Homo sapiens: one gene and its partners. The gene in region 5 interacts genetically with the main gene of each other region. Each region holds a gene or a part of one and is shown on either strand. Other genes may lie near its edges.

Region 1 (4,295 bases), on a different chromosome or scaffold from region 5:
ACAGTGGAGTGCAGTGGTGCAATCTAAATTCACTGCAACCTCTGCCTGCCGGGTTCAAGCAATTCACCTGCCAGTAGCTGGGACTACAGGCGTGCACCACCACAACCGGCTAAATTTTTATTTCTGGTAGAGACGGGGTTCACCATGTTGGCCAGGCTGGATCTCAGGTGATCTGCCTGCCTTGGCCTCCTGAAGTGTTGGGATTACAGGCGTGAGCTACTGCGCCTGGCCTCATTCAATGTTTAAAAATAAAACACATTTTATTATTAATATTCCAAGTTATCATTTAAATCCCATTTATATTCTAGAATATTTGAACAGAAATCCAGTTACACATTAAATTGATTAAGACACAGAACCTTAGAATCTGATTTAACTTTCTACTCTGCATTTCTCGAGTAAAAGTACTAAAGCAAAGCTTTTAACAAAGGCTAAAACTTAAGCATAGTGCTGCTCTGTACACTGTACTGAGATTCAGACGTTGACCTTTCTACCTCATAACTTACCTGTATGATCTGCTATAGTAGTCCCGATCATCATAGCCCCGATCATATCCTCTGTCATAGTAATCCCGACGGCGAGAGCTGCCACTATGAAGAAAAAAATATTCAGGTGACCTCCCTTATCTTTCTGGACATGAGTTTTTATATCTACTAGTAGGCCTTTTCTGACACATTAACTGGAAAATGAAAATTATTCCTGTTAAAATTCTCACCTATATTGAGCAAACATTGCCCTTTCCCTTGTTTCAATATATATAAACCTATTTTTAAAAATCTTTGGTTAAGGAGGCACACAGATCCTGCCAGAGGTCAATCTGCATATCCCACATATTTCTAAGAGGAAACAAAAATAGTATCACTTTGCTCTATTTAAGAAAATTTAGGCCGGGTGCAGCAACTCACGCCTGTAATCCCAGCTCTTTGGGAGGCCGAGGCGGGCAGATCATGAGGTCAGGAGATCGAGAACATCCTGGCTAACATGGTGAAAACCTGCCTCTACTAAAAATGCAAAAAATTAGCCGGACGTTGCGACACGCGCCTGTAGTCCCAGCTACTCGGGAGGCTGAGGCAGGAGAACTGCTTGAACCCAGGAGGCGAAGGTTGCAGTGAACTGAGATTGCACCATCGCACTCCAGCCTGGGCGACAGAGCAAGACTCCGTCTCAAAACAAAACAAAAACAAAACCAAACAACAACAAACAAAAAATTTAAAAATGGACTTGACTAAGATTTAGTTTTACCTGTAATGGTTGAACTTCTACTATGAGAAAAATGCCCTAATGAGGAGCATTTAATCAATCAACAGTCAAGTTTATGGCACAAACCTAAGTGCTGAAGACTTTCCACTAATACAAGTGTTTCTTTGACAAGTGAAAAACTGCCAATTATATTTATTTTGAAAATAAACTTACTAGGTAGGTCTCCCCATGTAAATTCCTGGTGTTGGCGTATGTGGTCTTTTTGTTATAGAGAAATCAACTCTGATCCTACGCCCATCAAGCTCCATTCCATTGGCACGTTCTTTAGCCTTCAAAAGGTAAATAAATTGTTACATACATCCTGAACAAAGCCACTAATTATCCTGTGGCTATGAGTAAGATCCCACTGGACATTTCAGTTAGGTGCATTAAGTTATCTTAATGTTAGCCAGAACGTAAGGTCTACAACTTACAAATGTGTTGTTCCCTCTACTAAATGTTCATTTGTAAAAGCTACTCATAAAAACTTGAAACAATTATTTTACCTAACTATGATCCTGACAGTATTTCCAGCTCCAAAGCAGCACACAATTGGCAAACTATAGCCTGTAGGTCAAATCTGGCCAGCTGGCTGTTTCTGTATAACCCATAAGCTAAAAATTTAAATAACTAGGGGGAAAAACAGTATTTCATGACAAGTGAAGAAACACACAAAATCCAAATTCCAATGCCCCAAAATAATCTTTTATTGGAATAGGGCCCCAACTCATTCATCTGGCTGCTGTTGGGTTAAAACAACAGAGTTAAATAGTTGCGACTGAGATCCTATGACTGAAACCTGAACACATTATTTAACCCTTGGAAGTTTTCTTAGCCCTTCTCTGGAAGCCAAAAGCTAAGACTGAAGCACAGCCTTAAGTACATATAGTTCCTTTTCCCAAAGTATGTATTAACAGCATACATTTAAAAAATAAAAATACCCCGTTTCAAACACATTAAAGTTTGTTCATAATTTGAGGAAACATCCTTTCACCTAAATAGAATTTAAGTTTCTAATTCCAATACTATGCTATCTTCTAGTTCAGATGTTCAAGCTAGTGTTTACGCCCAGGCAGTTTCTGGCACTAGAGATTAAGATAAAATTTATGCTATTTTCCGAGAGCTATGATCCTACTGCAAAAATTTAATTAGGAAATGGGCGGCCGCGCATGGTGGCTCACACCTGTAATCCCCCAGCACTTTGGGAGGCCGAGGGGGGCAGATCACCTGAGGTTGGGAGTTCGAGACCACCCTGACCCAACATGGAGAAACCCCGTCTCTACTAAAAATACAAAATTAGCTGGGTGTGGTAGCCTGTAATCCCACCTGCTCAGGAGGCTGAGGCAGGAGAATTGCTTGAACCCAGGAGGCGGAGGTTGCGGTGAGCCGGAGATCGCGCCATTGCACTCCAGCCCAGGCAAGAAGAGTGAAACTCCGTTTGTCATTAAGTGTTTCTCAGTTCTTCCTCTTCTCTATACTTGGAGATGACTTTAGCTACCATCCTTAATGTACCTAAAATCTGAATTTCTTAAATGGGGTCTAGCCCCACATTTCAAATCTTGACTCTATATTCTGCCTCAAAACAAATCAAAATCCAAATATGACATCATTCACTAGCCAAAAAAGGAACAATGTTTTCCTTCTGCATCATAACTTTGCTTTTGGTTATTTTTGACTCTAGAATGTGAACCCAGTGTAAACACTGACTACATATCCTGGCGGAATTGGGGTATAGTTGACCCCAATAGGTGGCAACTAATAAAGCAGGTGGTAGGACCAACTTCCCCAAGTTATACAAAATTTTGTTATTCTGCATGTATCTTGAGTCTCCACAAGAGGTTGGAGAAAAAGTTCGAAGTATTACTGACTTGTCCTTGTCCTTATCCTAGCAATTGGTCACTGATAACTTGGCGTTAACAATAGAACTGATGGTTTACAAAGGAACGGGCTTTTACTTACTTCCTTGGCATCATCTACATTTTCAAAATATACAAAGGCAAATCCTCTTGAACGCCTAGACTGCTGGTCATATACAATAGACACATCGGCAATGGGACCATATTTAGAGAACACTTCTCTTAGATCTCTTTCTGTGGTGTACAAGCTCAGCCCAAATACTCCAAGACAACAGTTAGGATCAGGATTTGCCTAGGGAAAAAAAAAAGTTTTAAACTTTGGAAAAGTTGTCATAAAATCAAAGTTGTTTAAAAAGGGAGCTGTATACTAGCCAAAATGTCACTAACAAGAAAAGTACATAATGATTAGACCAAACACTGCTTAGAAATTACAAAATTACAGCAAGTACTACAAGTATTTTTGGGAATGGGTAGGAAAGAATGCAAAAGAAAAAATTTCAACCTTAGAATTAAGTAGGTAAACAAGCACTCGTGCTGGCGAAAAGCAACTTGGCATCTTTCCTTCTATGAATTTATTCTAAGAAAAATTCACATATTCATAACATGACATACAAGGATAACTGGAACCACACTGTGTCTATCAGCTAGAAAAAATTGTAATGTTGACACACCTTCCATTCAATAGAATGCTCTGAATTGCCAAAAAGATGAGCATGTATGGTTCGATTTTTTCAGAAACACAATACACAAGTAAGTACATAAACGAAGCCTGAGGGGATGCGTACCAAACCATTTTACAGGTCATAAACAGCTTGCAATCGTAAGAAACAAGAGTTGGCCAGGCGCAGTGGCTCATGCTTGTAATCCAAACACTCTGGGAGGCCAAGGCTGGTGGACTGCTTGAAGCTCAGGAGTTTTGAGACTAGCCTGGGCAACACAGTGAGACCCCATGTCTCTACAAAAATATAACAAATTACTGGGTGTGGTGGCATGCCTCTAGTCCTAGCTACTCAGGAGGCTGAGGTGGGCGGATCGCTTAAGCCTGCAAGGTAGAAGCTGCAGTAAGCTGAGATTGCACCACTGCACTCCAGACTGGGCGACAGAGTGAGGCCCTGTCTCAAAAAAAGATGACAAGAGGAAAGAATAAAGAGTGAGCCATATGTTGCTAACATTCCAGATGCTGTGATGAATTTACCTAAA
Region 2 (4,295 bases), on a different chromosome or scaffold from region 5:
GTAGTATGTTTTTAAGGGAAAAACTATTGAGTCTTAAACTTGTTTAATGGTACCATGCAAATTTGCAAACATAAAGGTAGATGAAGTCCTTGTGTCTATAAGAGCTCCCAACTTTCCCAACTTTTTTTCTTTTTTTTTTTGAGACGGGGTCTCACTCTGTCGCTCAGCCTGGAGTGCAGTGGTGCTATCTCGGCTCACTGCAAACTCTGCCTCCCGGGTTCACACCATTCTCCTGCCTCAGCCTCCCGAGTAGCTGGGACTACAGGCACCCGCTACAACGCCTGGCTGATTTTTTTTGTATTAGTAGAGACGGGGTTTCACCATGTTAGCCAGGATGGTCTCTATCTCCTGACCTTGTGATCCGCCCGCCTCGGCCTCTCAAAGTGCTGGGATTACGGGTGTGAGCCACCGCACCCGGCCAAGAGCTCCCAACTTTAAAACAAATATATAAAGTACATTACACATCCTGTGGAATACTTACGAGGCAGTATATAAGTACAAATTTTGTTTTCTTTACACTCAACTCTATGCTACTTTGATATGATACTATCTTTATTGGTGGAGATTCTTTTGCTATTACATGCAGTCAGTTGTCCAACTATTACTCTCTGTTTGAACTACTGTGGAACCCTTGATGTTACTTAAACCCACCTCTCAGCCTGGGCAGCATAGTAAGACTCTTATCTCTCCAAGAAATAAAAAATTAACTGGGTGTGGTGGTGTGCGCCTGTATGTAGTCTCAGCTACTCAGGAGGCTGACATGGGAGGATCACTTGAGCTTGGTAGGTGGAGACTGCAGTGAGCCGTGATTGTGCCACTGCACTCAACCTGGGCGACAGAGTGAGACCCTGTGTCAAAAAACAAATGAAAATCCACCTCTCATCTTTTTTCATTAATCTTGCCAGCATCAGCTAGGGTAATATTATTTGGTACACATGTAACTGTACATACAAACTGATCTCAAGATTGAAATCATGTGACGGTATCTGGTTATAATTACATAGGTGGGGCCTGGTGCGGTGGCTCACGCCTGTAATCCCAGCACTTTGGGAGGCCAAGGTGGGTGGATCACGAGGTCAGGAGTTCGAGACCAGCCTGACCAACGTGGAGAAACCCTGTTTCTACTAAAAATACAAAAATTAGCCCGGCGTGGTGGCAGGCACCTGTAACCCCAGCTACTCAGGAGGCTGAGGCTGGAGAATCACTTGAACCCGGGAGGCAGAGGTTGCTGTGAGCCAAGATCATGCCCCGGCACTCCAGCCTGGGTGACAGAGCGAGACTCTGTCTCAAAAAAAAAAAAAAAAAAAAAATTACATAGGTGATCTAAAGCATGTTTATATTAATTAAACACACACAATTAAACAAAACATCAACAGGACTATTTTCTTAGAACACACGAATTCCTTCTCCCCTAAATATGTGTCTCTAAGCCCCACTTTGAGAAGTACTAATGTAATTAGAGCTGAAAGCCTTCGATTACTGATCTAGATAGAGAAACCTCAGTGATTTCCCCCAGTCACAGAGCTATTAATGGCATATCAAAGATTCATATCGATAATATTTTGTTTTTTTAAGCTGGGACTTTTGTCAGTGCTTCGGATTGAAACTTTACATTGTTTTTAATCATAAACATTTGCTAGAAAGTAGGTATCTTTTCCTATAAGTAGAGGTAGTGTCTTCTAACTTTTCATTAATTATAGTGCATAGAACTAAAACATTTTTCGTTTAAAGTTTTTTATTTTATGGAAATTTTCTAATTATTTCTGTGTGGGTGTGTGAAATAAAATTTTTTTGCTTTTTTAAGACCCCTGGGCATACTCCTTCCTTAAGATGGGATGAGACACCAGGTCGTGCAAAGGGAAGCGAGACTCCTGGAGCAACCCCAGGCTCAAAAATATGGGATCCTACACCTAGCCACACACCAGCGGGAGCTGCTACTCCTGGACGAGGTGATACACCAGGCCATGCGACACCAGGCCATGGAGGCGCAACTTCCAGTGCTCGTAAAAACAGATGGGATGAAACCCCCAAAACAGAGAGAGGTACTTCTAGTGGAGTATGGGTGTGTGGGTGAAATGTTGAGTGATATGTTTACAGACTGAAATGTGTTCTGTTTATTCCTGGGTGGACACGTATAAATAACCAGCTGCTTTTGGGGGACAGATTAAGAATAGAACAGTTCATATGCCTAATTTTTTCCACTTCTTGAAGTGGTTTAAGATTTAAGGAAGAACCTTAGGTAAAAGTAAAGTTAGTAGGCTGTAACCTTTGATTTTGTGTGTTTCTTTAGAGATAGGGTCTTGCTCACTGTAGCCTTGACATCCTAGGCTCAAGTGATCTTCCCACCTCAGCCTTCTTAGTAGCTGAGACTATAGGGGCATGCCACCATGCCTGGCTAATTTTTTTTTTTTGAGATGGAGTTTTGCTCTTGTTGTCCAGACTGGAATGCAATGGCGCGATCTCAGCTCACTGCAACCTCCACCTCCCGGATTCAGGCGATTCTCCTGCCTCAGCCTTCCTGAGTAGCTGGGATTACAGGCATGCGCCACCAAGCCCGGCTAATTTTGTATTTTTAGTAGAGACGGGGTTTCTCTATGCTGGTCAGGCGGGTCTCGAACTCCCGACCTCAGATGATCTGCCCCCCTCGGCCTTCTGAAATGCTGGGATTACAGGCATGAGCCACCGCTTCCGGCCCCTGGCTAATTTTTAAATTTTTTGTAGAGACAATGTCTTGCTTCATTGCCCAGCCTGGTGTTGAACTCCTGGTTTCAAGTGATCTGCCAAAGTGTTGGAATTACAGGCATGAACCACTGTGCCTGACTTACCCTTTGTTTTTTATTATGGAAAAATGTACATAACATCAAATTTACTTTTTTTGTTGTTGTTGTTGAGATGGAGTCTTGCTCTGTCACCCAAGCTAGAGTGCAGTGGTGCGCTCTCGGCTGACTGCAACCTCTGCCTCCCCAGTTCAAGTGATTCTTTTGCTTCAGCCTCCTGAGTAGCTGGGATTACAAGCGCCCACCACCACACCTGGCTACTTTTTGTATTTTTAGTAGAGACAGAGTTTCATCATGTTGATCAGGCTGGTCTCAAACAACTTTAAATGGGTCACCATTTTAGGAATATTCTATTTTAGAACTTGATAGTTTTGAGTATAACTGTTTGAGAATAAAGAATATTATTTTAACAGTGATTAAAATTGTGGTTTTACTCACTCTTTCTTTTTAAAGATACTCCTGGGCATGGAAGTGGATGGGCTGAGACTCCTCGAACAGATCGAGGTGGAGATTCTATTGGTGAAACACCGACTCCTGGAGCCAGTAAAAGAAAATCACGGTGGGATGAAACACCAGCTAGTCAGATGGGTGGAAGCACTCCAGTTCTGACCCCTGGAAAGACACCAATTGGCACACCAGCCATGAACATGGCTACCCCTACTCCAGGTAGAACTGTCTCATTGGACATAATTGTTTTTTTCTCCATAAATTATTTAATTTTTTCCTTTGTGGTATTCTGTGTACTATTAATGTCAACTTCTAGTAAGAATAAGGAGATATACAAATTTAAGTCTTGGTTTGCGTTTATAATATAAAAGCAAATAATAGGATTGATCTTAACTGTCTTTTATCTCAATGTATGTAATAATACAGTCTTGTACTATAGATTATATAAAAATTTGCTTTTCTTGGTAGGTCACATAATGAGTATGACTCCTGAACAGCTTCAGGCTTGGCGGTGGGAAAGAGAAATTGATGAGAGAAATCGCCCACTTTCTGATGAGGAATTAGATGCTATGTTCCCAGAAGGATATAAGGTAGTACATCAAATTTGAATGAGGTGGTATTTAGGATATACATTTATTTTAAATAGTGAAAAAAATTGATTAAGCTTGCATTGGCTTTGCCCAAATTTACTATTGTCATTCCATTCTCTTAGCTATTTCCAGGTATATTTCAGTTCCATATAGAGATGAAAAGAAATGAACAACATGAAACTTTTATTACTTTTTGAAAGACATCTCAAAGACTTGTGTATGGGTCTATCGGTTATACTTTGAGAACTGCTGGTGCTTCAGTTTTCTAGCAGTCCCAGGAATAAGCTCGTTGAGATTGTGGTTATTTTACTTGGTGCTTCACCAAGATTTTATATACTTAAGTTTATGGATTGTCAGTGGACACAAAGAATTTTTTTTTTTTTTTTTTTTTAAAAGATGGAGTCTCACTCTGTTGCCCAGGCTGAAGTGCAGTGGCGTGATTTCGGCTCATTGCAACCTCCGCCTCCCAGGTTTAAGCGAT
Region 3 (4,295 bases), on a different chromosome or scaffold from region 5:
GTCCCATCTGTACCAGATGGTGGATGATCTGCTTGCGTGTTCGAGGAACAGTATTCAGGTGGGCCAAGATGGCTTCCACCACATCCTGCCCTGGCGTGGGGAAGGACTAAGGCAGTAAAGAAGGTCCCACAGCTCAAGCTGCCCTCCTCATAAACTCTCCAGATCCCAAGGCCTCTCACCTTCCACGTCCTTATTGGCGAGGTACAGCTCCCGAAGATGAGCCTCTTCTTCGGGGCTCCATGTAGGTGCTCTGCGACTGGAAGACCTGAATGGTGAAAGGAGAAAGGGAGCATATAGGTTCTTGGCCCAAAAAGAGGAGACCAAAGGCCTTCTCTGATCAGTTCTGAAAAGAACAGGAAGGACAAGGCAGGTAACTGAAAGAGGCCAGCCAGCAGAGGCCTACAGTGTGCCTCCTTCCCCTCACTTTCCTTCCACGTAAGAACCTAAAAGTCAAACTAAGAGATTTTCCAGGTTGGGCCAATGGAACCCTGACCATTCTGACTCTAGGGACTGAGAATATTATGGGAAAAAGAGACTAAGTGTGAAAGGAGAGGGGCTGAGATACTAAGGGAAAGAGGACAAACATTTCTACAAATCCTCATGGTTTCCCAGCACATTTTGGGAGAGGTCGCACACAGACTCCCTCTGGGCAACCACCCAGCTCCCAACAGTGACTACCTCTATGGAGGCTGGTGATGGAGAAGGAAACTAGATACACACTAGACTTAGGCTCCAGTCCCTGCTCCTCTCTTGGATAACTTTAGGTAAAGCATTTCACCTCCTGAGCCTGTTCTCTCACCCATAATAGGGAAAGAAACAGTGGGCTAAATGACATGCAAGCTCTTAACAGCTTTGACATTCTGTGACTCTGCATCAAACTTCCCCTACCCCCACCCACCCTTTGCCAACTTCAAGCTCACCTGTCATCCAGGGAGCCATAGCCCTCAGTCATCTCTCGAACCACAGCTGTGTTCTTCCAGAACAACAGCTCCACAAAGGCTTTTTGGTTGACTGCAGCCAGTGCAAAAAATTTGCCCAGGATGTATTTGGCAAAAGTCACTAGCTCCTGTAGGAGAAGGAGGTTACTATGAGGCCTCTCTGGTCCAATGCAGACCCGAACCTGGCCCTCTAGGTATTTTCTCTATAGCTGTTCCCAGCTGCCCCCTCCTCACTCACTCTCTTCTGTCCTTCTCCATGCAGCTCCCTCAACCTGCCTGTCTACTTTCTCATTGTTTTCCCATCTCCCAGCCCTTGACACCTCTCAGCACCTTCTATCTCCTGAAGATTATTTATTTACCTGAGGGTTCCCATACCCTTCCAGAACCCCATTCCTTGTTATCCCCTCACTTTGTAGGCTCCAGCAGCAGGGTCACTAAGCAGACGATTGAAGAGGCAGAAGACTGACAGCTGAAAAAGTAGGGCTTCCATTTTGAGGTCATGGGCCAGCCGGTGCAGCATCTTCACAATGCAATGGTTAGTGTGGGCACTATTCTGCTGGTAGCTCCTTAGTAGCAGCACATAGGCTCGAACGACAGTTGAACATGCAAAGCTGCACCAAAACAAGGAGGGAGAGGATGTCAGCATAAGGAAGACATAGCTCATCCTCACAGCCGCACAATCGCCACTCTAGGACCAACTCAGGCCTCTCAGCCCGCACCGTTTCAGGTAGTCCAGAAAATTAAATTCTTTCTCCGACACCTGGACCACTTGCAACTCCTCCTCTTCCTCCTCCTCCTCCTCTTCTTCTTCCTCTGCCCCACGTTCCTCTGGGCCCTGCTGCCCTATAGACAGAGGGAGGATTACTGAGTCTCTGTTATGTTGGTGCTAGAAAAGAGCTGGAAGGAGACAGATGTGAAGGGTGGAGACTCACGGGGAAGTGGAGCAGAGAGGATTTGTTTCAGCAACTGGATCTCTTCCTCTGGAGAAATGTCTTGAGAGCCAAACACATCTCCTTCAGGCCACACCTCCCTGGAGCACAGATAGAAAAAAGGCTTTACCCAGGGGAAATCTGGCTTTAAATTTATAATTCGAAGTAGAAGAAGGAATTTAGACTTATTTCTTTTGTTGGCCAGAAACAGAATGCAAACTGTTACCTCAAATGAAACAAAGACTCCAGGGAAAATTTTCCTCATAAGCCACAATTCAATAAAAACCAGCTAAGAACAAAATGCAAACAATCTAAATGTTTGACACCTGGTTGAACAAATGTACATATTCACACAATGGTGTTTTAAAGCCATTAACAATTACAGAAATATATCTGATGAGAAATCATGCTCATAATATACTGAGAAGTGAAAAATTACTATAAATCAGCATGTACAGTATTTCATTTTTGTAAAACAAGGTATATACGATATTTTTACATGTAACGGAGCAAAAAAACCTCTGGATGGTTACTCATCAAAATGTTAATGATGCATATCTTTGGCTACTAGAATTAAAGTTAAGTCCGCCCTTAATGTCTTCAATAGGTTCTTGGATACTGCCACTTTAAGTGAAACAATGTATAACAAAACCAGTTTTTTTTCTCTTAACGTTATAAGAAACATGCCGTAGGTCATTTTACTCAAAGCTGCAATTACCAAGGACTTATTGATGATGTCAAGTGAGGATTTGCTTTCTTTATTTTTTTCTCAATTAACTATGCTTTTTTAATGTTTTTCAGAAACAAAAAAACCCAACAAACCAATCAAAACGCCCCAGGAGTCAGTTGGTATACAGTCCCAGAGCCTTGATGAGACAACTCTCTTTTGAAGACTGAGAACACTGTACCGCAGTGATGGCCTCCTCCTTCCCCCAAAGCCCAAGAGGATGAGCAGGCAGGGTTCTTACCGAGCAGACCTCAGGAGAGTCAGGGCCTGTGGGGCCTGGCCAGCCAGGAGACAGTCTTGGATCCGTACCATAGCTTCTGCCCGCTGCTCCTCCACTGGCACCTCTGAGGCCGCATCAAAGGGAACCACGGAGTCCATGCTGAGCTCAGAATTCTAGAGATGGATAAAGCTATGGGAGCGGAGGGAGTGGAAAACCCAGATTGTATACCCTGAGCACTATTCTCAAAAAAGACAGGGTTTCTGTAACCACCTACCTGGGCACAGCACTGTAGCTGCTCAGCCAGGGCTGGCCACACAGCCTCCACTTCTTCTGGGCTAGATGGGACATTACCAGAAACAATGGCCTGGTCTAGGACCTTCTTCTTCTTCTTCCTTCTCTTCTTTTGTTTGTTCTGTGGGGAAAGAATTGTATTAGGATGTCAAGAGAGCTAAAGAGGGCTTTCCCCATCAGTGTCTTTTCTATTACAAAACTAATTAACTGGACATTCACAGAGTGCCCATTATCTGCTATCCATCGGTAATAGAAAGCAATAGTGAACAGCATATTTCCTTCCCTTTGAGGAGCTTTTACTCTAGTGGTGGAGACAGGAAGTAGAAAGGTAATTACACTAGAGTGTGGATAAAAGCTATAATGTGAGTGAGCATAAGATGTCATGGCAAAACTCCTGACCCATTTCCTGAGTTCAGAGGTTTGCCAAAAGCAGTGCTATCTCAAGAGGTCTACAGAATAAGCAGATGCTATGAGGATCAAATAAGACACATGGAAAAGCTTCATAAAATGCAAAGCACTATGTAAATAAAGCCTCTAATTTTTTCTCCTGAAAAGTAGGACAGCCAGGCGCAGTGGCTCACACCTGTAGTCCCAACACTTTGGGAAGCCTAGGCAGGTGGATCGCTTGAGGTCAGGAGTTCAAGACCAGCCTGGGCAACACAGCGAGACCCTGTGTCTACAAAAAATACAAAAATTAGCCAGGCATGGTGGTGTGTACCTGTAGTCCCAGCTACTTGGGAGGCCGAGGCAGAAGAATCGCTTGGGCACGGGAAGGAGAGGTTGCAGTGAGCTGAGATTCAGCCACTGCACTCCAGCTTAGGTAACAGAGCGAGACCCTGCTTAAAAAAATAAATAAATAAATAAATAATTAAAAAAAAGAAAAGCAGGAGAGTGAGTCAATACCCAAATCCTGCTTCTCCCAAGTCAGGGCTGTGAACCAGTCTTTGGTGTGGGTACTGAAAAGTCAAACAGGATGAACTGAGAGGCCCCTGAAGGTCATGCTCCATTAAAGAACTTACAATCAAACACACCAAAACTTAGGAGCATGGAGTCCAGCAGATCTGGATTTGAGTATTGAATTAGTATTACTAACAAGACTTTGGACAAGTTGCTTAACCACTTTGGGCACATGCGCTACTGTGAGGATTACATGAAAACGTCAGCACAGTGTCTGACACACAGTAAATGCT
Region 4 (4,295 bases), on a different chromosome or scaffold from region 5:
TGTAATTCCAGCACTTTGGGAGGCCAAGGTGGGAGGATCACGAGGTCAAAAGTTTGAGACCAGCCTGGCCAACATGGTGAAACCTTGTCTCTACTAAAAATACAAAAAATTAGCTGGGCATGGTAGCGTGCACCTGTAATCCCAGCTACTCAGGAGGCTGAGGCAGGAGAATCACTTGAACCCAGGAGGTGGAGATTGCAGTGAGCCGAGATTGCACCACTGCACTCTAGCCTGGGTGACAGAGCGAGACTCCATCTCAAAAAAAAAAATAAAACAAAATCCAAAAATTTATGAAAAATCAATTAAGATAAAATTTTCATGATTAAAAACTATTGTTGCAATAAAGAATGGGATTATTCTGATCTTTGTGACGAGAATATACGCACATATATTATTTTAAGGAGTTATTTTGTGCTGTAAGTTAATTTTATAAATTTTCTTTCAACAGATACAGGGTATATAATCCTTCTCTCAAAAAGGGTAACTTTAAACACATGTATTCTTGTCTTTCCTGTTATGAAAATAGTATGTAATCATTAAATAACATGTCTAAAAGATAGAAAAGTAGAAAGGGGAAAAAAATTAACCATATTGCTATTACCTGCAGACAGCTGCTGTTAATATTTAGCTGTATTCATCTTTTTTTCCCTATACGTATTTTTCTTTTCCTTTGGAGACAGGGTCTTACAGTGTCACCCAGGCAGGAGTGCGGTGGCATGATCATGGCTCACTGAAGCCTTGACCTCCCCAGGCTCTAGTGATAATGCCACCTCAGACTCCTGAGTAACTGGGATCACAGGCACATGCACCATGCCTGGCTAATTTTTTGAAATTTTTCTGGAGACGTGTTTGGTTTTGATTTTTCTTCTTTATTTTTTCTTTTAATTGTGTGTATGTGTGTGTGTGTGTGTGTGTGTGTGTGTATCAGTGTTTAAAACTTCAGGTTAGAATATTTTCGTTTTCATTTAAGTTTAATCATTACATATGTGTCTCCAGAATAAGATTGAAAAATAAGCTCCCTTACTGTTTTATATGGCAGTATGATTAATGTGGGTTTTAAAGAATGATTTCTTAAAGCATTTGTTCATTCAGCAGGCATATTTTGAGTGTCTTTTGTGTGTTGTAGGCCAGGTGCTGGGGTACAGTAATGAGCAAGCAGTGGTCCTGTCCTTACAGAACTCGCCTGCCAGGGTATTCATGGTAGATACATTAGAAATGGAAGTAAAACTCATGCACGCGTAATTCACTGTGAAACATTCCATACACAAAAACAAAATCTCATACCCTGTTGTTATCACTTAATCACAGTTTATAAATCTGTTTATATGTGTGTTTATTTTTTTAATATCTGTCCTTACTACTAAATTGTAAGTGCCATGAAAGCAGGGACCATATCAATTATTCTTAGCACCTGGCTTGTTCTGTGTCTGACACAGTGAGTTTTCAAGTATTTGATGAATGAATAAACAGTAGCTATTTTGATAATGAGTAGCTTCTGACCTGTTTTTCTGAAATCCTGGTAAGATTGATTCTAGAGGAGCGGGGGTATAGCGGTAGCAGTAGGAGAGGGAAGAATGAACAGACGAAATGCTTTACTTGCCATATTTTTCATAATATCAAGTAATACGTGACATAGATTCAATGTTTGGGTTTTTTTCTTTGACAGAATTATAGTGAACATTATTCACAACACTTCCGATTACCATCCAAAAGTTTTGCGATTTTTGAATGTGGCTTTTGATGGCACAGGCGACTGCTTAATTGCTGGGGACCACCAAGGAAATATTTATGTTTTTGACTTACATGGAAACAGGTAAGCAGATACCATTGATATCTACGTTCTTTAACAAGTTATTAATTCACTGACTGTTTTCGTACCTGCTATTCATTATTCATTCAGAAAGATTTATTAAGTTCTATTATATTTCAGGTACCTTGCAAAATACTGTCATAAGTGCTAAAGGACGAAAGTGGGAAAAAACAGAATGATAACATGGTTCACATTTTAAAGAATTAAAGTGCTGGTTTTAATAGTATCTCTAGTAGTTTCCTTTTTTTTTTCTTAAATTTAAAAATTTATTATTGCTAATTTTTTTTTTTTTCTTCAGACGGAGCCTTGTTCTGTCGCCCAGGCTGGAGTGCAGTGGGATGATCTCAGCTTACTGCAAACTCCGCCTCCCAGGTTCCAGCTACCGCACCCAGCCCATAGTTGCTAGTTTGTCAATTTCTGGTACATCATGAGGCAATGTAGAAATAACACAGTTTTCTTTGCACATTGTTGTTGTGGGGTGCCAGATCTAAGAATTTTAAAGAATTGATTTTCAGCTGGGTGTGGTGACTCAGGCCTGTGATCCAGAAATTTGGGAGGCCAAGGCGGGCGGATCGCTTGAGGTCAGGAGTTCGAGACCAGCTTGGCCAACGTGGTGAAACACTGTCTCTACTAAAATACAAAAATTAGCTGGGTGTGGAGGTGCACGCCTGTAATCCTGGCTATTTGGGAGGCTGAGACAAGAGAATCACTTGAACCCAGGAGGTGGAGGTTTCAGTGAGCCGAGATCGTGCCACTGCCACTGCACTCTAGCCTGGGCGACAAAGCAAGACTCCATCTCAAAAAAAAAAAGTTGGTTTTCACTCTTCTTCCTCTTCTCTTCCCTTGTGAAACAATTTAGTCCGAAAGCAATTAGGTGGGATTGATGGAGATAGGTATTCATGCAGCGGGGCTAAGAGGGAAGGACAGCTGCAGCAGCCTAGCAGAGAGGCAGAGGGTGTCTGCATAGCGAATGGGGCAGTGATGGGAAGCTAGTTTAATACAGGGGGCTTTGATCAACTAAATATATTAGGGATAATGAGGGCCAAGTTTCTCACTCTTAGAAAAGAGACTTACATATATGGAGGGCAGAAAACTAGAATAAACCCCATGGTATTGTATTGGAATTAGATATATCAGTTTGAACCCCTGGTTTTGAATATATAGAGATAGATATAGCACTAAATAGAGGTATGTACACATATATGTACACATTCCCTAGCTTCGTACACCCAGAGGGCCTGGGAGCAACAGCATGCCAGCAGCAATGAATATACCCGGTGTTGAGTTCTTGTTTTCAAAATACCACTTTCTACTAAAAAGAATCAAGGATATTTGCAAAAATGGCCAATTTCAGAATGCAGACAGGGAAAGTACAGGATGAGCCTGTAACATTTTGTAGCCAGAAAGAAGGAATTGTTCAAAGAATGTTCGGGATGTGTCAAAAAGACACAGTTGCCAGCTTGAAGGAGCTCCCTCTGGTCATATTGGAGATGGGTCATGCATTGAATAAAATTGAAATCTATGAGTTCATGTTGTAACCAGTATACAAACAGTTTAGTAAGGCATGGATATTGAATAGTCACAAAGTACCCCCCCACAAAATACTTATTAATTATAGAAGAAAAAAAATTATACAATGAAGAAGCCTAGCAAACACTGCCTTAATCAAATGACTAAAGTTAATATAACTAGTAGTGGAATGAATCAAAATTTGTGTGCCACCTGATAGGATGCAGTGAAAAGAACACGGCATCATTTCTGTGATATTCCTCCCAAGATATATAACCTGAATCTAATCAGTGGGATCATCACACAAAGCTAAATTAAGGACATCTAATAACAAAACTGTGCTGATATCTCTACAAGGGACAAGATCATGCAAGTTGGGTAAAGACTAAAGAACTCCTAATCTGAGGGGGATGAAAGGGACATGACAAAGGCATGAATCTGGACTGATCCTTTTGCTATAAAGAACTTATTAGGAAAATTGGCAAAATTTGATTGGAGTTTTAGGATTAGATGGTGGTAATGTATAAATGTAATTTATTGGTGCTGATGGTTATATTGTGATTATGTAGGAGAGTTTTCTTATTATGGGAAACTTGATCTTGGTAACTTAAATAGTTAAAGAAAAGATGTGACATATAATTTACTTCTCTGTGATTCATTAGGTAAAAATCTGTAAATCATTGTTTCTGCCCTTTACCAAAAAAGTAATGGGCCCAACTTTTCTACCCTTTATTCTTGCTTAACTTACCTCACCAATTCCTAATCTTAAATCAGTACCACTGTCTATTTGCTAATACTTCTGAAAAAAATAAAAATAATTGTTGATTGATTTCATGACTAATGAACTTCAACATCGAGGACTCTTTGCACTTCATTTGCTTGTCTACGGTTACTTAACGTTTCCTATTCTCCACCAAGTGTTGCAAACCTTTACCAATTTCCTTGTCTCCTTGCATTGGACTCTACTGTTATTCTG
Region 5 (4,295 bases):
CGTCTTTAATCCATCTGGAATTTTTGTGTCTGTGGTGGAAGTTAGAGGTCTAATTTTACTATATGGTTGGCCAATTGTCCCTTCTCACCCCATCCATTTTCTACTGATTTTTAATGCCATCCCTATAATATACTCGAGTTCTCATATAAGTTTGTTTTTCTTTTCTCTGTTACATTGATCTCTGTGTACTTCCTGGGTCACTGACATATCTGGTAAACTATGCCCCACCCCTCCTTCCCCGCCCCCATCAGCTTTATTCTTCTTCAGCATTGTCTTGGCATTTTGGGGCCTCCTGTTCTTCCATATGATTTTGGAATAAGCCTGGAGACAACTTTTAATGGAATTGCATTAAAATGATAGATTATACATTTATAGGTTAATTCAGGTGCAGTTGCCATCTTCTCATCCTTGAACATGAAATATTTCTCTATTTACATCTTTTTTATCTTTCAATAAAATTACATATTTTTCCTCCTAAAAGCCTTGTACATTGTTTGTTGGATTTATTCCACAGTATCTTATAGATTACTTGTGACCGTTAATGGTATTTTAAAACTATATTTTCTTCAGCCTGGGCAACATAGCGAGACCCCAAAAAATACAGTGCTCTACAAAAAAACAAAATTACCTGGGTGGTACCTGTCTGTAGTCCCAGCTACTGAGAGGCTGAAGAGGGAGGCTCACTTTAGCCCAGGAGGTTGAGACTGCAGTGAGCTGTGATCATGCCACTGCACACCAGCCTGGGTAACAGAATGAGACCCTTTCTCAAACAGTAGAAAATAAGCCAGGCATGGTGGCTCACGCCTGTAATCCCAGCACTTTGGGAGGCCCTAGGCAAGAGGATCACTTGAGTCCAGGAGTTCAAGACCAGCATGGGCAGCATAGTGAGACCTCGTCTGTACAAAAAAATTTTAAAAATTAGACCGGCATGGTGTTGCACGCCTGTAGTCCCAGCTACTTGGGAGGCTGAGGCAGGAGAATGGTTTGAGCCTAGGAGGCTGACGCTGCGGTGAGCCATGATTGCGCCACCGCACTCCACCCTAGGCAACAGAGTGAGACCCTGTCTCAAGAAAATAAATAAAAATAAAATTGTACTTTCTAATTATATGTAGCTAATGTACAGGTATGCTTATTTTTATAAATAAGTTTTTTATCTAGCATTTTTTCTGAACTCTTTTATCTATTTGTTATCTTGTGTTTTCTACAAAGACAACCATATAATCTGCAAATTATGGCAGTTTCTTCCTTTTAAATCCTTATAACTTTTCCTTATTGCCCAAATTAGAACCATAATACAGTGTTGACTAGAAGGTGTGATAGGTACAACATTAGGATGCTCACTGGTTTTTTTTGTTGTTGTTGTTTGTTTTTTTTGAGATGGAGTCTTACCCTGTCGCCTAGGCTGGAGTGCAGTGGCGCGATCTCGGCTCACTGCAAGCTCCGCCCCTGGGTTCACACCATTCTCCTGCCTCAGCCTCTTGAGTAGCTGGGACTACAGGTGCGTGCCACCACACCCGGCTAATTTTTTGGTTTTTTGTTTTTTTGAGACGGAGTCTCGCTCTCTTGCCCAAGCTGGAGTGCAGTGGTGCTATCTCGCTCACTGCAAGCTCTGTGTCCCGGGTTCACGCCATTCTCCTGCCTCAGCCTCCCAAGTAGCTGGGACTACAGGCACTCGCCACCATGCCTGGCTAATTTTTTTGTCTTTTTAGTGGAGATGGGGTTTCACTGTGTTAGCCAGGATGTTCTCAATTTCCTGACGTTGTGATCCGTCCGCCTTGGCCTCCCAGAGTGCTGGGATTACAGGCGTGAGCCACCACACCCAGCTGGATGCCCACTGATTTTTAAAGAGAATGCTTCTGGCCAGTCACAGTGGCTCACACCTGAAATCCCAGCACTTTATGATACTGAGGCTGGCAGATCACCTGAGGTCAGGAGTTCAAGACCAGCCTGGCCTACATGTTGAAACCCTGTCTTTACTAAAAAATACACAAATTAGCCAGGCATGGTGGTGGGCACCTGTAATCCCAGCTACTCAGGAGCCTGAGGCAGGGAGAATTGCTTGAACCCAGGGGGCGGAGGTTGCAGTGAGCGGAGATCATGCCACTGCACTGCAGCCTGGGCAACAGAGCGAGACTCCATCTCAAAAAAAATAAATAAATAAATAAATAGAATGTTTCTATTGTTTTATCATTAAGTATAAAGTCTGCTGTATCTATTATTTTTTAAAAATGTGACTTTAAAAAATAGTAGGCTAGGAGAGATGGCTCACACCTGTAATCCTAGCACTTTGGGAGACTGAGGCTGGAGGATCACTTGAGGCCAGGAGTCCAAGGCCAGCTTGGGCAACATAGCAAGACCCTTTCTCTACCTTTTAAAAAATAACAAACAAAAATAAAATTTTAAAAAGTAAAAATAGTATATTGCTTCCCTCCCATTGTTCATCTATCTATCTATGTACATTTTTTTTTGGAATTTTGTTTTGTTTTGTTTTGTTTTTAAAGACAGAGTCTTACTGTGTTGCCCAGGCTGGAGTGCAGTAGCACGATCTCAGCTCACTGCAACCTCCACCTTCCAGGTTCAAGTTATTCTCCTGCCTCAGCCACCTGAGTAGCTTGGATTAAAAAGTCTGTGCCACCATGTCTGGCTAATTTTTGTATTTTTAGTAGAGACGGAGTTTTGCCATGTTGGGCAGGCTGGTCTCGAACTCCTAGCCTCAACTGATCTGCCCACCTTGGCTTTCCAAAGTGCTGGGATTACAAGCATGAGCCACTGTGCCCAGCTATATATATTTTTGTGTTTGACACAGGGTCTCACTCTATCACTCAGGCTAAAGTGAGTGCCTTGGTGTGGTCATGGCTTGCCGCAGCCTCAACCTCCTGGGCTCCAGTGATTCTCCCACCTCAGCCTCCCATGTAGCTTGGGACCACAGGCATATACCACTATGTCCGGGTAATTTTTTTTGTTTTTAGTAGAGATGAGGTCTAAACCCAGGCTGGTCTCGAACTCCTGGGTTTAAGCAATCCTCCTGCCTCAACCTTCCAAAATGCTGCGATTATAGGCATGAGCCACTGCACCTGGCCCCCTCATTAATTTTCTAAGGTCAAACTATCCTTCTAGTCTTGGGCTAAATTCTAATAAGTTGTGTTGGTCTAGGGGTTTTTTTTTTTTGTTTCTTTTTTTTTTTTTGGTAGTTTTTATATTGCTGGGATAAATTTGCTCTTACGTTATTTAGTATTTTTGTATTTGTGTTTGTAAGTGAAATCCACCTAAAGTTTTCCTTTGAACTGTCCAATTTGGTTATCAAGGTTATACTCATAAAATAAGTTGGTTAGTTTTCACTGTCTTTGTTCACTAGAATTGTTTGTATTTGTAGGCTGGGTGCTGTGGCTCACGCCTGTAATCCCAGCACTTTGGGAGGCTGAGGTGGGCGGATCATGAGGTCAGGAGATCGAGACCATCATGGCTAATACGGTGAAACCCCATCTCTACTAAAAATACAAAAAATTAGCTGGGCATGGTGGCATGCGTCTGTAGTCCCAGCTACTCAGGAAGCTGAGGCAGAAGAATCACTTGAACCCGGGAGGCGGAGGTTGCAGTGAGCCGAGACCACGCCACTGCACTCCAGCCTGGGCGACAGAGCGAGACTCCGTCTCAAAAAAAAAAAAAAAAAAAGAATTGTATTTGTAAGAGATTACATACTCTTGCATGTTTGATAACACATAAGGTAAAGGAAAAGAAGGTAGAAATAGGTAAGATTAGAATATTGAGTCATGTGGCAGTATGTTATAAAGGCTGCCATGGAAATTCCAGAGGGAACTACAAGAATGCCTGAGCAGTTTTATGTTCCTGCAGAAATTACCCTTACTATGTGCTGGGCACTGTTACAAATAATTTGTTTAAGGGTATAGTTGAGGTGGGATACCATGAATTTGTGATGGATGCAGTCTGCCTTTTTGGGGGGGGACTTTTTTCTACTGTTTCACTGCCTACCTTCCTCTACTTCATTGTACTCAAGGTAAGCCTCATTATCATCAGTGTTGGCTTTCACAAGGATGCAGTCTCATGACTTGGCCTTTGTAGGAAAACACCATTAGAAGAGTAGATGGTTGGGTAGTGGCTCTCTTCTTCTTCTGCTTAGACTCTTGTCTACTATGAATAAAGGGCTCTATTTGCAAAGGCCGTGATGGGTTGAAGCACATTGAGAAAGAGGCTACTGAAACATAAGTTACCTTTCTCGCCCAGGTGAGATTTCAATGGAAAAAGTGAAGGTAAAGCGTTATGTGTCCGGAAAAAGG
Region 6 (4,295 bases), on a different chromosome or scaffold from region 5:
ACTAATTAAAACAATTTAAACTGTTAAGAAAATTTTTGTGGTTTTATTGTATCATGAGGCATTGAAACATCTGAACAAATCAATGTCTGGGCGGTGAGGCAGCTGCTTTCTCCTTCACTTCTTTGGGTTACTAGAGCAACTTGTCAGTAGATTAAAAAAAAAAAAAAAAAAAAAAGGACAACCTTTTGCATTACTTAAGTCTTTCCAAGGCATGCGCTGGTACAACACAAACTTCTCCCGTCAGATGCAACTAGTCTAGCATCCAAACATCATGCACAACACCTCAGTGGCAGCAGCGCACTGCGCCCACTCCCACCGCGGCCCTGCTCATTTGTGCATGATATTTGGAGCATCTGGAGGAGTGGGAATAGTATTGGGAAGAGGAGGGAGGAGGAAACAGCGTGAGTGCCTAGCTGAGAGGAGGTCAGCCAAAGTTGTGCAGGGCGAGCCTGAACATGTCATTGGTGCAAACCCAAGCATCGTTGATGTTCTTTAATAGGAACATCTGGTGGAACCCCATGATGGGGTCTTCATCCGCCTATGAGGAGAGAAAAGAGGATTCAGTAAGGGGATCAAGAAACAGGAAGGGAATTCAGTGGTAGGAGAAGAGGGCAAAAAAATGTTGACTTTAGGATCAGGCCCTACTGTCCTGAACTCAAATCCCAGTGTAGCCAAGGGGTACTTGTGAATGTGAATTGATGTAATGTATGAAACAATGCCCTGGGCACATGTAGGCCAACAATCAGCCACGCCTATGTGTGCTATGTGTGCTTAAACTGCACAATAATTCACCCTTAGCTACAGCAAAAGAGCAGAGGATGTACCTGCCTCCAAGCACATATCTCCAGACACAAGTGATCACAATTTTGAAACGAATCCCATAGTATTTACCAAGTAACTTATAGAGTATCAAAAAAACTGCAAACAATCTTGAAAACATAGGTTCACTATCCAATGATGTTTCCTGTCATGTAATAAACAGTATTTGAGATGAAAAAAAAGGGCAAGAAACCTGCAGCCAAACTGCAGAAAACTAGGATGAGACCTAGTTGAAATAGGAGCCTAGCTAACCAGCACTGTCTCTAACATCACCTGCTTTCTGGGAATTATCGTCATCAAGGAGGCAAATCAGTTGTTTGGGAGCTCCAAATTGGACAGAATCACCAGGAAGAACCTGAAGCCGGTGGGAAGCAGCAGTGTTTACTACCTTTGCCTGAGAAAGTGAACAATGAGCTCCCTACAGAGACCTCCTGAATTCTGTGCCTCTTCAGGCACAGGCACTGAGCAGGACATCCTGAACAGGCAGGAGAAACTGACAGGAAAGTCCAGGCCAGAAAGCAGGTGCCTCTGCGTCCACTGCAGAGGCCCACAGGACCACCTACACACCCACTCTGGACTCAGGAAGCCCTGTCCCGGCTAGCCTAGAGAAAGAGAGCATGTGACCATGTTATTGTAAGACACAAGCCCAGGCCGAGGGGCAGCCAATTTGTCCTGCTATTTTTGGGAAGAAGGGTGTTTTTGTAAACAGAATCTGGCTTTATTTATTTATTTAGAGACAGAGTTTCACTCTTGTTGCCCAGGCTAGAGTGCAATGGTGCAATCTCAGCTCACCGCAACCTCTGCCTCCCAGGTTCAAGCGATTCTCCTGCCGCAGCCTCCCGTGTAGATGGGATTACAGGCATGTGCCACCATGCCTGGCTAATTTTGTATTTTTAGTAGAGACAGGGTTTCTCCATGTTGGTCAGGCTGGTCTCAAACTCCTGACCTCAGGTAATCTGCCTGCCTCGGCCTCCCAAAGTGCTGGGATTACAGGCGTGAGCCACCGCGCCCAGCCCAGAATCTGACTTTAATATGCTGAAGCACAACAGGTCCTTGGAGAGTTCTTGGGGGGTCTGAGGGACCACAGGAAGTCTCTGAGAATAATAGGTCTTGAGAAGGAGGAAGGAAAATGCAAAGAGAAATAGGTGGCTCACGCCTATAATCCCAGCACTTTGGGAGGCCGAGGCAGGTGGATCACCTGAGGTCAGGAGTTCAAGACCAGCCTGGCCAACATAGTGAAACCCTGTCTCTACTAAAAATACAAAAAATTATCTGGGTGTGGTGGCGGGCAGCTGTAATCCCAGCTACTTGGGAAGCTGAGGCTGGAGAATTGCTTGAACTCGGAAGGCAGAAGTGTAGTGAGCTGAGATTGTGCCACTGCATTCCAGCCTAAGCAACAAGAGTGAGACTCCGTCTCAAAAAAAAAAAAAAAAAGAAATAGGAGTTCCAGGAATCTGCTTTGCTCAGCAGGCAAGGAGCCAGCAGCCAGCCTGAGGAGTGGTAGCAAGGGCTGCAGGAGTGGACTGCCTCTCCGCACCCAGCTAGCCTGTCCACCTTGACCTTAGGGCAGAGTGGGAGCCTAGTGGCTTGGCACCCCAGTCCCATCCTACTCCTATACTTCTCCCTTTTCCAGATAAAGGCTCTAGACCAGTGTCTGCCAATAGGACTTTCTACAGTCACAAAAATGTTCTATATGGCTAGTACAACCGAAGAAGTACATTTTATTTAATCTTAATTAATATAACTTAAAAATTGCCACCTACATGTGGCTAATGGCTAGCATACTGAACTACGCAGCTCTAGACAGTCACTTTGTCTGGGTGTCCCTAGATAAGCAGGTCACATCCACAGGGAAAGCAGGGGTACAAGACTCTCCTCTGCCTGCCCACCCCTCCCTACCACTGTGGCAGTACCATTACCTTAAGCTGGCCCACAACCATGCTGATGATGCAGCTATCTGGAGTGGGCTGATGGTCCTGCGCGGTGATGCTGTGCTGAATTTTCTGGAACGGAAGGCTCTACAAGAGAGAGAGTGGGAGGTGGGAGAACCAAGGCCAGAAGGGGTGGGAAAGGAGCCACCTGCACCCTGGCTTTCTTCCCTACTTACAGACAACTTCTCCACAATGGCAGCTTTCCCCTGGAACTGTTGTCCTTCCCACGTAAGGCATGACGCGTCAATCTGAAAAAGGCACAGGAAACCCCAGGGTTGGGGCCTCAGAGTACAAGTATCTCTAAGGCCCTGGAAAGACTCTGAAAAGGGCCTTGCTTGGAGAAGTGTGGCCACACTTCAGTTTCCCTGTCTAAAGAAGGAGACTGAGTATAGCCCCCAAACATTACACTATCAACATCTTCTACCCCATTGACCCTGGGCCCAGGCTTTGAAAGACTATTTAATAAAATATACTTCCCATTTGTATTTAAGAAGTCATATGGTCTCTGATATGCATAGGCCCAGGAGGGCTATATTGGCCTGAGCTCAGCCATCCTGCTGTGTGGTCAGTCAGTGTCAGTCCCAAAAGGTCATCAGAAATGTGGCCAGGCACGGTGGCTCACGCCTGTAATCCCAGAACTTTGGGAAGCCAAGGCGGGAAGATCACGAGGTCAGGACATCGAGACCAGCCTGACCAACATGGTGAAACCCCAACTCTACTAAAAATGCAAAAATTATCCAGGCATGGTGGCGCACGCCTGTAATCCCAGCTACTTAGGAGGCTGAGGCAGGAGAATTGCTTGAACCCAGGAGGCGGCGGTTTGTAGCGAGCCGAAATCGCACCACTGCACTCCAGCCTGGGTGACAGAGCAAGACTCCATCTCAAAAAAAAAGTCATCAGAAATAACTTGGAAAAATTCCACATTCATCACCCTCCAGGGCCGAGGCTAAGTTCCACTGTGGACTTTCTAGCTAGCCTTCTGGATACCCATGGGGTCAGGGAGAGATAGAGGCTGACAGGGCCTTCCAAGGCCTAGTCTGGGACCCTCCCTACCACCAAGAAGCAAAATCTCAAATGTAACCCACTTAGCTTAGTTCCACCTCAAATCTTCCCTTCCACAGCCTTCAAGGGCAGAACTCAAAAGGGCTTCTGCTGCTTACTAGCTGTGACATTAAGTAAGTTATTTCTCTGAGTCTTAGTTTCCTAACCTTCAAAGGGGTAATGTGCTGAGTATTATGAAATAATAAATATAAATTGTTCTTTTAGGACCTTGCTAACTCTCTTCTCTGGCTCAGGCCTGCTTTAAGAGATAATGAGGCCAGGTGCAGTGGCTCACACCTGTAATCCCAGCACTTTGGGAGGCCAAGGTGGGTAGATCACTTGAAGTCAGGTGTTCCAGACCAGCCTGGCCAACATGGTGAAACCCCGTCTCTCCTAAAAATACAAAAATTAGCTGGGCATGGTGGTGCGTGCCTGTAACCCCAGCTACTTGGGAGGCTGAGGCATGAGAATTGCTTGAACCTGGGAGGCAGAGGATGCAGTGAG
Region 7 (3,500 bases), on a different chromosome or scaffold from region 5:
GCATTGCCTTTGGCTGTTAGGTATCTCTTGTAATAATCTCCTATTTATTACTTTCATTCTGTTGATTTGTTGAAGAAACAGGCATTTGAGCTGTAAGCTATTCTTTAGAAGAAATTGAACTCCTTTCTAACTGCTTTCTTCCCTTTGTGTGTGTATGTGTGTGTGTGTGTGTGTGTGTATTTAAAACAATCTATCTTTACCCTTGGTGGTAACCAATCTTTACAACTGAAATAAATAGTAAATAGTTTCTTGCCATCTGTTCACCCACATCACTGTTGTTTCATACCTCCTTTTCACAAATCCTAGCATAGGGTTTCTCACTGGATAGGCATTATCTTGTTTATTGAATGAAGAAGGAAACAGACACAAGGTGGTTTGTCCACGTAAGTGGGATTTAGTTATATGGGAATGTTTATGGAAGGCAGGCTATTACTTTGTTTCTCTTTAGTTTGGATCTTTTTTGTCTCATAGGGAGATGCAAGATACATGTGTATTTATCTTATTTCCATGTACTAGAAAATAAGATCCCAAAGGGTAGGGATCTTTCTGTTGCCTTTGCCCTGTGATGTTTCTCAAAGACCTAGAATAGTGCTTGGCACAGAGTAGGTGCCCAGTAAATGTGTTGAATTGGGTGACCCAATAAAAATAAATGCCATAAAGAAAATGTCCCAGGCTGGGCATGGTGGCTTAGGCATGTAACCCTAGTGCTTTGGAAGGCCAAGGCAGGAGGATCACTTGAGCTTAGGAGTTTGAAACTAGCCTGGGCAACATAGTGAGACCTTGTCTCTACAAAAAAATTTAAAAAGAAAAATTATCCAGGGGTAGTGTTGTACGCCTGTGGTCGCAGCTACTTGAGAGGCTGAGGCAAGAGGATTGCTTGAGCCTAGGAGTTCCAGGTTACAGTGAGCTATGATTGTACCACTGCACTCCAGCCTCGGCAACAGAGTGAGACTTTGTGTTGAAAAGAGAGAGAGAAAAAAATGTCCCAGCAACTGAGCATAGGGTATGACTTTAGGAATATATATTTTTGTTCAGTATATATTTATTTAGTATACAGTCCAGTCAATCCCTGCTCTAAGGTTAGGATAATTCTGAGTGGCTCTGGGATCCCACAATTAGCAATCGTGCTTAGATACAATTAGCAATCTTGATGCTCTGAATTTGTGTGTGTGTGTGTGTGTGTGTGTGTGTGTGTGTGTGTGTGTTGGGGAATGTGCAAAATAGATGTGGAACCCATAGTTTCCTTAGACAAGAGTAGGTCTTCTGAGCCCTGCTTAAAAAAAGAATATGGATTTAAATCTGTTGTCCATCAGCTTCTAGGTAGAATTAAAAAAAAATGTATTGATGGTAAGTGGGGTGAGGAATTTTTAAAAAGATACACTGATGTCTGGAGCCATACCTTAAAAGGATTTCTTAGAAATGGATTGAGTTTTTGGGTTGGAGAAACATAGGGCAAAGTTAGGCAGTACTTTTGTCACTTTGAGACTTTCTCTGTTCCTGTGCCTTGAAATAGAAACTCAGTTTCTATGTAATACCACTTCTCTAGTCCATTCTTCTTTAAGTGATGATTCTTGCTTTCTCTTGTAGAGCTAAAGTTGCAGACAAGATCCAGCTCATCAATAATATGCTGGACAAAGTCAATGAGATGATTATTGGTGGTGGAATGGCTTTTACCTTCCTTAAGGTGCTCAACAACATGGAGGTAGGAAACAAATGCCAAGTGGATGTGAAATAGCTCTCCATGATAATAGCAGGTTGTATAAATGTAAAAAGAAAACAGTCTTTTGACATGAGCCCTGAAAATTCCCATTTTTATTTATTTTGGCAAGTCTTTCGTCTTTGCATTGTTCCTTTATATTGTATTGTGTCTGGTTCCTGTCTGCTTTGTGAGGCAGTCTTGTTCTTAGTATAGATGCTGACCTCCATCATTTTGGCTCCCCTGTGTAGATTGGCACTTCTCTGTTTGATGAAGAGGGAGCCAAGATTGTCAAAGACCTAATGTCCAAAGCTGAGAAGAATGGTGTGAAGATTACCTTGCCTGTTGACTTTGTCACTGCTGACAAGTTTGATGAGAATGCCAAGACTGGCCAAGCCACTGTGGCTTCTGGCATACCTGCTGGCTGGATGGTGAGTCACTTGAGTGGGTTGGTAGTGTGAGTGAACAGAAACTCTGTGGTGTCATTTATTCATTGATTCAGCCAATCAACAAGCATTTTAAAACAATCTCTATAGGAGATCTGTCAGAGAGGGCTCTGCATGTTGCAGTGAGTCCCTCATGGAAGAATCCATGGGAGAAAAGCAGTGCTATTGGATTACTGGCCTTCAGTAATGCAGTAATGTGTTGCAAAACTTTGTTGTTGTTGTTTTTTTTTTTTTTTTTGAGACAGAGTCTCGCTGTGTCACCAGGCTGGAGTGCAGTGGCATGATCTCGGCTCACTGCAACCTCTGCCTCCCAGGTTCAAGTGATTCTCCTGCCTAACCCTCCCCAGTAGCTGGGACTACAGGTGTGCACCACCATGCCCAGCTAATTTTTGTATTTTTCATAGAGACGGGGTTTCACCATGTTGGTCAGGATGATCTCAATCTCTTGACCTCATGATCCACCTGCTGCGGCCTCCCAAAGTGCTGGGATTACAGGCGTGAGCCACTGTGCCCGGCCCATTTTTAGTTTTATCTGTTTTTTCTTCATCTGTTTAATGTGTATTAAGTACTTACTGCGTACTGGAGATAGTGTCATGTACTTTCATGGTTTGGGTTGTTTTGGATTATGTTGCTATCTAGAAAGCTATATAAGAAAACTTTCTCATATGAAAAAATTAAGTATACTGATTACAAGCAGGGAGAAATGTAAGTGTATATTAAAGACTAATATAGTTGATTTTAGGGTGCTCCAAATATCATTTTGATTGCTGTATAAAATTGTATCATGTTTTTACATGCTAGTTTGCTTATTTTTCTTTTCAGGCATTCACGTATTATTTAGTTCAGTGTTTCTCAAAGTATGTTCCTAAGACCAGCAGTATCAGTATCATTTTTGGAACTTGTTAAAAATGCAAGTTCTTGGGTCCCACCCCAGACCTACCGAATCAGGAACTGAGGGTGGGGCCAAACAGTCTGTTTGAATAAGCCCTCCTGGTGATTCTCATGCATGGCAAAGTTTGAGTACTACTGATCTAGTTTACTGTCATTCCCAACACTATTGACATCTGTTGTTTTGTGGGGGACTGTTGAATTGTAAGGTTGTTTAAAGCATCCTTGGCCACTAGATGCCAGTAGCACCCTCCCAAGTTGCAACAACAATATTTCTAGACATTGCCACATGCCTATCTATTATGAAGGGGCAGAACTGACCTGGTTGAGAACCATTGATCTAGTTTTCACTAACATAAATAGTGTGGCTAAGAATGTCTTTATTAAATAACTTTTGAGGTTTTCCGTTAGACTTGATCTTCCATACAGTAGAATTTTTGAGTATAAAGGGCATGAACAGGTTTATAAAG

Evidence for each region.
Region 1: changes in MFAP1 (region 5) and TRA2B together harm fitness less than expected from each alone (positive genetic interaction), as found in Homo sapiens cells (one large-scale study listed by BioGRID).
Region 2: changes in MFAP1 (region 5) and SF3B1 together harm fitness more than expected from each alone (negative genetic interaction), as found in Homo sapiens cells (one large-scale study listed by BioGRID).
Region 3: changes in MFAP1 (region 5) and TIMELESS together harm fitness more than expected from each alone (negative genetic interaction), as found in Homo sapiens cells (one large-scale study listed by BioGRID).
Region 4: changes in MFAP1 (region 5) and TBC1D31 together harm fitness more than expected from each alone (negative genetic interaction), as found in Homo sapiens cells (one large-scale study listed by BioGRID).
Region 6: changes in MFAP1 (region 5) and NUTF2 together harm fitness more than expected from each alone (negative genetic interaction), as found in Homo sapiens cells (one large-scale study listed by BioGRID).
Region 7: changes in MFAP1 (region 5) and PGK1 together harm fitness less than expected from each alone (positive genetic interaction), as found in Homo sapiens cells (one large-scale study listed by BioGRID).

Annotation. Positions count from the first base shown.
Region 1 is NC_000003.12:185,920,598-185,924,892, forward strand, and holds part of TRA2B (transformer-2 protein homolog beta), read right to left. Parts: intron 3,388-4,295; coding exon 3,199-3,387; intron 1,530-3,198; coding exon 1,414-1,529; intron 591-1,413; coding exon 507-590; intron 1-506. UniProt on the Homo sapiens protein: Sequence-specific RNA-binding protein which participates in the control of pre-mRNA splicing. Can either activate or suppress exon inclusion. Acts additively with RBMX to promote exon 7 inclusion of the survival motor neuron SMN2.
Region 2 is NC_000002.12:197,407,517-197,411,811, reverse strand, and holds part of SF3B1 (splicing factor 3B subunit 1), read left to right. Parts: intron 1-1,804; coding exon 1,805-2,042; intron 2,043-3,230; coding exon 3,231-3,443; intron 3,444-3,692; coding exon 3,693-3,814; intron 3,815-4,295. UniProt on the Homo sapiens protein: Component of the 17S U2 SnRNP complex of the spliceosome, a large ribonucleoprotein complex that removes introns from transcribed pre-mRNAs.
Region 3 is NC_000012.12:56,421,927-56,426,221, forward strand, and holds part of TIMELESS (protein timeless homolog), read right to left. Parts: intron 3,227-4,295; coding exon 3,089-3,226; intron 2,988-3,088; coding exon 2,836-2,987; intron 1,969-2,835; coding exon 1,871-1,968; intron 1,782-1,870; coding exon 1,658-1,781; intron 1,550-1,657; coding exon 1,348-1,549; intron 1,067-1,347; coding exon 921-1,066; intron 266-920; coding exon 180-265; intron 91-179; coding exon 1-90. UniProt on the Homo sapiens protein: Plays an important role in the control of DNA replication, maintenance of replication fork stability, maintenance of genome stability throughout normal DNA replication, DNA repair and in the regulation of the circadian clock.
Region 4 is NC_000008.11:123,075,445-123,079,739, forward strand, and holds part of TBC1D31 (TBC1 domain family member 31), read left to right. Parts: intron 1-1,666; coding exon 1,667-1,813; intron 1,814-4,295. UniProt on the Homo sapiens protein: Molecular adapter which is involved in cilium biogenesis. Part of a functional complex including OFD1 a centriolar protein involved in cilium assembly.
Region 5 is NC_000015.10:43,817,396-43,821,690, reverse strand, and holds part of MFAP1 (microfibrillar-associated protein 1), read left to right. Parts: intron 1-4,242; coding exon 4,243-4,295. UniProt on the Homo sapiens protein: Involved in pre-mRNA splicing as a component of the spliceosome.
Region 6 is NC_000016.10:67,867,043-67,871,337, reverse strand, and holds part of NUTF2 (nuclear transport factor 2), read right to left. Parts: intron 2,999-4,295; coding exon 2,927-2,998; intron 2,838-2,926; coding exon 2,739-2,837; intron 539-2,738; coding exon 425-538; 3' UTR 1-424. UniProt on the Homo sapiens protein: Mediates the import of GDP-bound RAN from the cytoplasm into the nucleus which is essential for the function of RAN in cargo receptor-mediated nucleocytoplasmic transport.
Region 7 is NC_000023.11:78,121,248-78,124,747, forward strand, and holds part of PGK1 (phosphoglycerate kinase 1), read left to right. Parts: intron 1-1,587; coding exon 1,588-1,702; intron 1,703-1,947; coding exon 1,948-2,127; intron 2,128-3,500. UniProt on the Homo sapiens protein: Catalyzes one of the two ATP producing reactions in the glycolytic pathway via the reversible conversion of 1,3-diphosphoglycerate to 3-phosphoglycerate.